Regions from separate parts of the Homo sapiens genome. Here region 2 is linked to region 1. Evidence: fine-mapped expression QTL. Tissue or cell type: whole blood. Region 1 holds a variant in brackets; the other region holds the start of a gene. All regions are shown on one strand. Distances are from middle to middle.

Region 1 (5,217 bases):
GTGTGGTCACAGAGTGGGGCGCAGAGGGGTCCATAACCCAGTGATGCCCACATTCAACATTGCAAATTCAAGCCAGCCCTCAGGCTTGGGATTCTCCCAGCCTAGCCATTCACCTCCTCATGGCTCCTCTCTATCTCATCTCTCATGTGACGGCTGCTTGCCTCCCCCACCCTGGTCCTCTCTCCTCCTTGGCTCAGGCCCTGCCATACAGAGCCAGCCCCTGACGGCACAGAACGGGAGCATCCTGGTTGTCCTCCTGGAAGGCTGCTGTGGCCTTGTGCCGCCTTGGAGACTGAGCTGAGCCCTCCCTCCCACGGTGACAAATGTGTGGTGCCCCCCAGAAGCAGGGCACCTTCCTCTGTGCAGCCACCTGCCCTGGCCGGCTGCAAATCTCAGATGCTGTGAGTAGATCTGTCATCCATTTCCTTTGCCCAGTGGGTCTGAGGCAGATCTGAGACTCTACCCCTAGCATGGAGTGGGGAGGGAGGTCTGCCGGTCTTGGAAGGCTTCCAGAGCCCCCCTCCCTGTCTCCAGTGACTTCCCTCACTGAGGGGTACCCCTTGGGGTAGAGGCCACTCTACCCCGTTGCCCTTGGCAACGCTAGACCCTGAAGTGAGTTGTGTGGGTGATACAGCTTGGATCTGTGTCCCAGCTCAAATCTCCCGTCAAATTGTAAACCCCAGTGTTGGGGGAGGGGCCTGGTGGGAGATGATTGGATGATGGGGGCTGATTTGCAGTGCTCGTGATAGTGAGTGAGTTCTCACGAGATCTGCCTCTTTAAAAGCGTGTGGCACCTTCCGCTTCACTCTCTTCCTCCTTCCGCCTCGTAAGACACGTCTCTTTCCTCTTCGCCCTCCGCCATGATTGTAAGTTTCCTGAGGCCTCCCAGCCATGCTTCCTGTACAGCCTGTGGAACCGTGAGCCAATTAAATCTCTTTTCTTTATAAATTACCCAGTCTCGGCTGGATGCGGTGGCTCACACCTGTAATCCCAGCACTTTGGGAGGCTGAGGCGGGTGGATCACCTGAAGTCAGGAGTTGGAGACCACCCTGGCCAACATGGTGAAACCCCGTCTCTACTAAAAATACAAAAAATTAGCTGGGTGTGGTAGCGGGCACCTGTAATCCCAGCTGCTCCGGAGGCTGAGGCAGGAGAATTGCTTGAACCCAGGAGGCGGAGGTTGCAGTGAGCTGAGATCGTGCCACTGCACTGCAGCCTGGGCTACAAGGGTGAAACTCCATCTCAGAATAAATAAATAAATAACCCAGTCTCAGGTACACTGGGGATGCCATGCCGGGGGTGGGTGGGACTGGGCGGGCGTTCAGCCTGCAGGCCACGGGGGTCGGTGGCAGCAGAGTCCTTGGACTTTGTGCCGGCCACCTCACTCTGGACTGGCCTCTCCACCCACTACCCGGTGGCCTTCAGATGGTCCTTTTTTTGCAAAACCAGGCAGAGGGTTGTGTGGCGAGCCGCCCGGAATCTTTCTGCTGGGTAGTGTGTGTCTGCACGTGCCCCAGGCTGGCACCCCTCCGTCACCTCCCGGTCACTGCAGGCTGCCTCTGAGGAGGGCAGTACCTGCCCACAAAGGCCCACGGAGCCATGGCTTCTTCCCAGTGGTGATCCCTGATGGGCTGGAAGGTGACCGAACCGCTTGTCCTTTATAAGCTGGGCTTGCTGCTTGCCGTTGAGGAAGAGCTTGTCATGGGTGTCAGCGTTTAAAAGTGGAATGTGAGTTTCTGAACGCGCTGGCATTGCAGGGGAAAGTACATACTTGCAGGGAAAAAGACACGAAGGAGACACAGGAGACGGGGGCGGGGAACGGAGGGTTCAGCAGCGGCGGCAGCCTCAGGCATAGGTGGGTCCTGCCTGGCCCTACCACTCCGGCCTCATTCTTTAGAGGGTCTGTTCTGAGCCCAGCCCCTAAGGGGTACTGAGCTGTCAGTATGTGCAGGGGCGTGGATGGTATGAGTGGGCCGGACAGGGTGTGGACCGGCATGGCGCGGCGTGGAGAGGCCAGAGGGACTGGGTGGGGCCGAACACAAGCGGCTCGCAGGAAGCCTCTGGAGTGCAGGGCGTGCTGCGGGTGCAAGAGACAGGCTGCAGCGCTCTGAGGGAGTCCCGCATTCTGAGTTGGATCAGAGCCTGGTGTCTCTGGTGGGGCCAGGACATTCTCATTGGCCAGTTCCTGTGCATGGGGTGACCCAGGCTGCATGGAGGGAGCCGCTTGTGGGTGGGCCACACCTCTCGTTCTCCTTTCAAAATGCTCCTGAGGTAGCAGCTGCCTGGCTGCTTCGCCATTGCCACCCCGTCCCAGCCGCGCCACCTCCTTCCGGACAGCCCCAGCACCCTCAGTGAGACCAGAGCCCCTCCTGCCTCTGCAGCCTCCTCTCCCGCTCCTCGAAGATTACTTTCCTTCTTCCTGGAACATTCTTCCCCCATCTTCAAACTCTGCCACCCGGCGTTTCCTCAGAGAACGCCCCCCACCCCACCCCACGGGTCACCCCCACTCCAGGTTCAAGTGGCCGAGGTGAATACTGGGTGGGCAGGGCAGGAAGTGGGCGGCAAGACACCTCCACCATCCCAGCCCACCCTCGCTGCGGTCGAACCTTCCCACTAGAACTAAAATGAGATTCCTGTGTTTTCACTTGGCCAGCGCAAGCCTTCCTCCTGGGCGGAGGGACCCCCCTGAGGTCTCCCCACCTCCCGTGGGGGGTTTCCCTGTGCCTGGGAGGCAGATGGGCTGTGGTGAGCCCTGAGTGGACTCAGCCAACAGCAGGGGCTGCTGCTATTGTGCCCCCCACCCCCTTAGTGGGTCCCCCCAAGTCATCTGCGGCAGTGAGACCAGCTTATTCTAAACCTCGGAGTCCTTCCTTCCCCTTCTGTCTCGTGGCCCAGAATGTCTACTTCTTCATGAAGCAACGAAATGCTTCCTACCTGCAGTGAGCGATGGGGTGCGCTGGTTCCGAGTCACAGAAAAGCAGCCTCACGCTGCTTCTAGAAGGAAGGGAATGTATGATCTGCGCCTCCAGAAAAGGCACCCCCAGGCCCCGGCCTCTCTCTGGGAGGTCTAGGGCTGGGCCATGTGACCGATGCTGGCATAGTGAGGCTGCCAGAGGATCCTTGACCAAAAATTTATAGCATCCTCAAGCCCTGGAGATGTTTTAAGAG[G/A]ACCAGCAGCAGAAGCTAATAAAGTGGTTAAGTGGGCATCAATTTGCAAACCCTCTCGGCTTGGCCCAGGCCCCTGGATGAGGTCATTGCCCTGGTTTCCAGATCAGAACCCTCCAAGGAGAGGCTTCGAGGTGATGGGCAGAGTCTGCAGTGGGCCAGTTCCAGGGAGGGTCCCTTGGGTGCTTCTGCAAGCACCCCATCCCACCATGGGCAGAAAGCCAGGGACTGTTTGCACCCCAGGAGGCGCAGCACTGCACAATAACCCCTACAGTTTGCACGGGCTGAACGAGGTCCCGTGAGAGCTGCTGTCAGGGCAGGTGACCCGGGTTGCCCCCTCGGGAGAGGTGTGTGGTGCAGAGACAGAGGGACAGGAGCTCCCTGGGCTGGAGGCTCTCCTCCCACAAGCTGCCTGGACCCCCTTCCCCATCTGGAAGGGGGGACGCGCCCCTGGTCTGCTGCTCATGCCGGGATCTGTGGTGACAGATGATCAGATGGGATGTACCTGACCAAGGGGGCACCATACACTTTCTGTGCCAAGGCCTGTGGGCCTGTTGCCCCATTTGCCCAGATGGCTCCCTGAGCAAACAGCCCCTCCCCATTCACTTTTCCCAGAAGCTCATTCCTCTTACTAATGAAGGATCAGAGCTTGGACCAGAAGGGTTTTGTATAAACTCAGATGAGTGCTAAGTAAACAGCCGGGAACCCGCACGGCTGGAGAGTTTGTCCACTAGCCTGGCAGCCAGGCAAGGGCAAGTGACCACAGGCCAAGCAGGGGCCACAGTCTCCTGCTTTTAGCACCCCCCATGCACCGACCCCCTTCCCTCCCTGGCAGGGTCTGGAAGAGTGGGCTTCAGCCAGGCCAGGGGGTCCTGATGCAGCCTCATGTCCAGGCTCAGCCAGGCCAGCCACATCCTCTTCCACTGTGGATAGAGCTGCCCCGGCTGGAACCTACCCCCTCTGGCAGCAACCTGCCAACCCCTTGATATTACAAAATCTTTTTTTTTTTTTTTTTTTTTTGAGACGGAGTCTCGCTCTTTCACCCAGGCTGGGCTGCAGTGGTGCTATCTCGGCTCACTGCAAGCTCCGCCTCCCGGGTTCATGCCATTCTCCTGCCTCAGCCTCCCGAGTAGCTGGGATTACAGACGCCCGCCACTGCGCCCGGCTAATTTTTTGTATTTTTAGTAGAGACGGGGTTTCACCGTGTTGGCCAGGATGGTCTCCATCTCTTGACGTCGTGATCCACCCGCCTCGGCCTCCCAAAGTGCTGGGATTACAGGCGTGAGCCACCGCACCCGGCCGATATTACAAAATCTGTAAGTATTGCTGATCCGGCAGATGAATGGTGACACCAGGTGGCTGTACTGTGCACATCCCAGGCCACCTGTAAGGCCAAGCGTGTTTCATCCCCCTGTTGCTCATTGGACTCTTGGGATCTCTAGGTAGAGAATTTGCCCATTTCTCTGGGAATTTTTTTTTTGTTGGTTATAAATGCTACAGATATTTCTCACCAGACTTTCACTGCAAACTCTTTCTCTTCCTGTGCAGAGATTGCGCATTTTGTCAGAGTCAAATGTACCCATCCTCCGCAGCCTCGGCCTGAACGGGGCTTCCCCGCCCCGAGACCAGGCACTGCTCGCCCAGGCTCTGTCCTGACCTTCTCGGTGTTTTGTTGTTTTGGTGTTTCATGTTGGCCTCATTTTACTTTTATGTGGTATTTGGAAAGGACGTATATCAGGACTCAGGAACTGAAGTGTTTTTTTTGTTTTTATCTTTATTTTTTTTGAGACGGGATCTCTGCAACCCAGGCTGGAGTGCAGTGGCGCGATCTCAGCTCACTGCAATCTCTGCCTCCCAAGTTCAAGCAATTCTCCTGCCTCAGCCTCCAAGTAGCTGGATTACAGGTGTGCACCACCATACCCAGCTAATTTTTGTATTTTTAGTAGAGATGGGGTTTCACCATGTTGTCCAGGCTGGTCTCAAAATCCAGACCTCAGGTGATTCACCCACCTCAGCCTCCCAAAGTGCTGGGATTACAGGTGTGAGTCATTG
Region 2 (5,176 bases), 150 kb before region 1:
GATCAAGACCATCCTGGCTAACACGGTGAAACCCCGTCTCTACTAAAAATACAAAAAAAAAATTAGCCAGGCGTGGTGGCGGGCACCTGTAGTCCCAGCTACTCAGGAGGCTGAGGCAAGAGAATGGTGTGAACCCAGGAGGCAGAGCTTGCAGTGAGCTGAGATCACGTCACTGCACTCCGGACTGGGCGACAAAGCAAGACTCCGTCTCAAAAAAAAAGAAACGGAGTTAAATATCAAACGGCCAAAAAGTACTACCAAACTTTTAAAACAATGCACGCACTACACACTTTGAAAATTGAAAATATTTAAAAGAAAAAATTGGCAATAAATATTTTGATTGGAAAGGGTGATGGTTATAAAAACATGATATAAAGATGTGTAAGAACCCAAGAAACAATGTGGCTTCAAAAGTATCAACACCTACTGCAAGACACTGAGTGATACCCACGGCCCAGGGCTAGGCCAATGCCCCACTAACCTGGGTCCCCTCAAAACCCTCTGCCCCCAGCCTTCAGGAGCTGCTGGCTCCCACCTGTCAGAACTCAGTTCTGGTTGTATGGAGAGGTCTGAACCCACCTTCCGTCCTCTGGTCCAGCTCTCGCATCAGCTGGAAGTTCCTCTGAAGTTCGCAGGGAAGGTTCTCGATACCTGAAACGCAAAAACACAGAAGCCATGTACCTCTCAGCAGCAAGACAAAAATTCACCTCCAAAGGTTTTCTGTCTTTTTTTTTTGAGATGGAGTTTCACTCTTGTTGCCCAGGCTGGAGTGCAGTGGTGCGATCTTGGCTCACTGCAACCTACACCTCCCAGGTTCAAGTGATTCTCACGCCTCCGCCTCCTGAGTAGCTGGGATTACAGGCACATGCCACCATGCCCGGCTAGTTTTTGTATTTTTAGTTGAGACGGGGTTTCACAAGGTTGGCCAGGCTTGTCTCGAACTCCTGACCTCAGGTGATCCGCCCACCTCGGCCTCTCAAAGTGCTGGGATTACAGGTGTGAGCCACCAGGACTGGCCAAAAGTTTTATACTTCAAGTCTACAAGCCCACTCTGTATTCTGTCTCTGTCAGGGTTTGCGGAGCGGAAGGACTGTGATCTCATTTTTAGATGCAGGTACCAAACAGTGCTGACAAGAGGCTGTGTGCACACTTCGGAAGCTGTCAGAAGTCAAAGAAGGGAGAGGGAAACTTGGAAACCAACAGCACAGGCAGGGGAGGCCAACTGACCCCACCCTCTAGGCTGCCCCCCCTCAGTGAGCAGCATCTTCCAAGGCTCAAGCCAAAATCCCCTGGGTCCTCCTTGATCTTCCCCTACTTTACCCAGAAATCCAGTGCATTGAGCAGTGTAGCCACGCTGCCCACGCGACTTTATGCAAGGATAGAAATGTTTCCTCTCTCGGATGGGCGTGGTGGCTCATACCTGTAATCCCAGCACTTTGGGAGATCAAGACAGGCAAATCAGTTGAGGTCAGGAGTTCAAGACCAGCCTGGCCAACATGGTGAAACCCTGTCTCTACTAAAAATACAAAAATTATCCAGGCGTGGTGGTGCACAGCTACAGTCCCAGCTACTCGAGAGGCTAGGGCATGAGAATTGCTTGAACCTGGGAGGTGGAGGTTGCAGTGTGCTGAGATCATACCCTCCAACCTGGGCAACAGGGTGAGACTCCATTTCAAAAAAAATCAAAAAAAGAAAAAGAAAAGAAATGTTCTCTCTGAGCTGCCCAAGACAGTGGTGGCCATAGGGAGCTACTGAGCACTGGAAATGGGACTAACGCCATTCAATTTTTAATTTTACTTAAATAGTCCCTGTGGCTAGCGCAACCATTCCCCACAGTCTGCCAGGAGGACCCCCGTGCTGCTTTCGCGTCTGCTTTGTTACCCCCTAGACCAGGCCAACCTCCGCCCCCTGCACAGCTGACACAGGCTCCTAAGGGGGGCTGCCTCCTCCAGTCTTGGCCACCCTCCCATCTGCTGTTCACAGTTACCAGGCAATCATTTTAAACCTAACTCTATCTTATGCATCTGATGCTTCCAGCCCCAGTGTTTTCCCAGCTCCCCTAGAGGACAGAGGCACAGCCTCCCGGCTGGCACAGCCTCCCAGACACACACAAAGTCAACCCTCCTTGGGAGGCCAGCCCACTGGCTGGGCACCAGGATAGAGAAGGCCTCCCCTCCAGCGTGCTCCCCAGCTTGACTCTTCTACCCAGGGAACCCCCCACTACTCAGACCCCCAAGAGACAGCGGAGCACATGGGCAGAATCGGGCGTCCCTCTAGGGCAGCGGTCTCCAGCTCCAGGCCACGGCTCACTCGCCACTGTCTCAGCCCCTGGGCGGGTGCCAGGCCGAAGACCATGAGGATCCCCAGTGCAGCGCCCCCACAAGGGCCCTCCAGAGCCACCCGGCACAACCCCAAACACCGCGACCCCAAAGCTGTGCCCATCCCGGGCCGACGTCAGGGGTCCCGCGTGGGGTCTGCCCCTCTACGAGCGGGAGACCCTGAGCAGGCTGCTCGGCAGCGCTGGACCTTCCCTGGTGTGTAAAGTGAGGGAAAGCACCGTCCGCTCAGCCGCTGGGGGCGCCGACCTGCTGCCACCTGGAAACAGCACAGCCCGCCCACCAGGGCCGACTCGGCACCGCCCTCCCCGCCTCCGCGCCGCAGTCCCCAGTGCCGGGGAGAGACGCCCCGCGGCCCGCACGCCCTCCCCAGCCGCGGTCACACAAGAGGCCGGCGCACACGGGCGCACAGCCAGGCGGAGGCCCAGACCCCGGAGCCCCCAAGGCCCGGAGCCCCGCAGCGGGCGCCAGCTCCTCCTGCAGACGGGACAGGGACGGGCGGGACCTGGCGGGGCCGGGGCCGGAGCTGGGGGCGGAGATGAGGCGGGGCCTGGGTAGGGGCGGGACCTAATATGTGGGCGGGGTCGAGGCCGCAAGCCCCGCCCAGCATCGCCAGGCCCCGCCCCGCCGTGACGCACCTGGAATTGGCGCGACCCAGCCGGCGGGACCCCCCGCGCCCGCCCCCCGCGCCCTCCCCTCCCTTGCGGCCCTGCCCCGCCCCGTCCGCGCGCCCCCCGTCGCGCCCGGCCGCGCCCGCCGCCCTCCCGAGCCCACGGGGTCTGCATGCGGTGCCCGGCGCGCGGGGGGCTGCGGCACGGAGGACTCCGCGTGGGCGGCGGGCGCGGGGCCCGTGGGGCGCGCTTACTGTCCAGATAGTGCTCCAAGTACATGGCGGTCGCCATCTTCGTCCGCGGCCGCGCTCGGGGTCTGCGCGGGCGGGCGGTGCCGCGGGAGGCGGGGGCGGGGCGGTGCCAGCGCGCTCACTATTCATGAGTCGCGCGCGCTGATTGGTCGCGCCCGGGGGCGGGGTCGGACACGCCTTTCAGCTTCCGGCGGGCGGCGGGCTGCGGGGCCCGGGCGGAGGTTGTGGCAGCGGCGTCGGGCAGCGAGCAGGACCCAGGGCCGCAGCGGATCGGAGGCCGAGGAGGAGCAGGGGTTCCCGGCCCCACCGCCCGGCGTGCGGCCCAGGGCACCCAGGTGGGCGTCTCCCCTCCGCACCTGTCAGCGACCCCTGGGCCACCAAACGCAAACACGTGGTCCCGGGGACCTCACGCCCGTCCTGACGGCGCCCACGCGACCCCTGCTCCCGGCCGGGTCCCGGACAGGCCGCCACGAGGCCCTCCCTTCCCGAAGGCTCCTTGGGACCTGTCTGGCTCAGCGCCTTTCCCCCGGACCCCGAGCCCCCGGGGCCTCAGCCCGGCCTGAGCCGAGGGCCGGCACCGCGTGGCCCGGGCGAGCTGCCCCTCCCTCAGGGCCTGGGCCCTGGCGCCCTTCCCCCGCCAACGCCGCCCCTTCCCTCCGAGGAAAGCGGCCGCCCCGCCCAGCACCAGTGAGGGCACTGGCTCCTTTGCTGCCACCTCTCGAGGCAGGCAGGACCCGCACCATCTGGATGCCTTGGCCGAAAAGGCACGTGCGGCAGTATGATATAGTTAATAAGATGGCGTGCAAAGGTGTGCCGTAAGATGCATGCAAAAATACTGGAGAAGGCCGGCGCGCTGGCGCACGCCTGTAATCCCATCACTTTGGGAGGCCGAGGCGGGCGGATCACTTGAGGGCAGGAATTTGAGACCAGCCTGGCCAACGTGTTGAAACCCCGACTCTACTAAAAATACAAAAAAAAAAAAAAATTAGCCAAGCGTGGTGGCGCACGCCTGTAGTCCCAGCTACTCCGGAGGCTGAGCCCGGGAGGCGGAGGTTGTAGTGAGCTGAGATCGCGTCTGCACTCCAGCCTGGGCGACAGAGCAAGACTCTGTCTTCAAAAAAAAAAAAGAAAATTTTAAGAAAAAAAAAATACTGGAGAAACATAATTAAAATATGTTTCAGACTCGGCACGGTGGCTCACGCCTGTAATCCCAACACTTTGGGAGGCCGAGGCGGGCGGATCACTTGAGGGCAGGAATTTGAGACCAGCCTGGCCAACGTGGCGAAATCATGTCTCTACTAAAAATACAAAAATTACCCGGGCGTGGTGGCGGGCGCCTGTACTCCCAGCTACTCGGAGACTGAGGCAGGAAAATTACTTGAACTTGGGAGAGGGAGGTTGCAGTGAGAAGAGATCATGTAACTGCACTGCAGCTTGGGTGACAAGAGCAAGACTCCGTCTCAAAATAATAATAATACAAAAACTAGCCGGGCATGGTGGCAAGTACCTGTAATCCCAGATACTCGGGAGGCTGAAACAGGAGAATCGCTTGAGCTTGGGAGGCGGAGGTTGCAGTGAGCCGAGATTGCACCACTGCACTCCAGCCTGGCCAGCAGAGCAAGATTCCATCTCAAAAATAAAATAAAATAGGGCAGGCGCGGTGGCTCACTCCTGTAATTCCAGCACTTTGGGAGGCCAAGGCGGGAGGATCACGAGGTCAGGAGATTGAGACCATCCTGCCTAACACGGTGAAACCCCATCTCTACTAAAACTACAAAAAAATTAGCTGGGCATGGTGGCGGGCGCCTGTAATCCCAGCTACTCGGGCGGCCGAGGCAGGAGAATGGCGTGAACCCGGGAGGCTGAGCTTGCGGTGAGCCGAGATCGTGCCATTGCACTCCAGCCTGGGCGACAGAGCAACACTCCGTCCCAAAAAAAAAAAAAAAAAAAAAAAACTTAGCCGGGCATAATGGCTGGT

Evidence for each region. PIP is the estimated chance that this variant, and not a neighbour inherited with it, causes the effect.
Region 2: it holds the start of ING5, and the variant in region 1 is fine-mapped to the expression of ING5 in whole blood (TOPMed, PIP above 0.99).

Annotation. Positions count from the first base shown.
Region 1 is chr2:241,549,195-241,554,411 of GRCh38, reverse strand. All of the region lies in intron 1 of BOK-AS1 (BOK antisense RNA 1), which reads left to right. LOC105373974 (a long non-coding RNA gene) reads left to right here and starts at 1,571. Exons shown (of 3, transcript XR_924069.3): 1 at 1,571-1,728; 2 at 4,354-4,481. It also overlaps a transcript of BOK not described here. RefSeq lists a silencer at 2,229-2,467 and an enhancer at 2,137-2,947. The variant G/A (reference allele first, on the strand shown) is at 3,169.
Region 2 is chr2:241,700,128-241,705,303 of GRCh38, reverse strand. It overlaps ING5 (inhibitor of growth family member 5), which reads right to left and starts at 3,265. Exons shown (of 8, transcript NM_032329.6): 1 at 3,202-3,265; 2 at 580-651. The coding sequence starts at 3,238. RefSeq lists enhancers at 2,147-2,776, 3,015-3,847 and silencers at 2,502-3,061, 3,246-3,409, 3,152-3,971.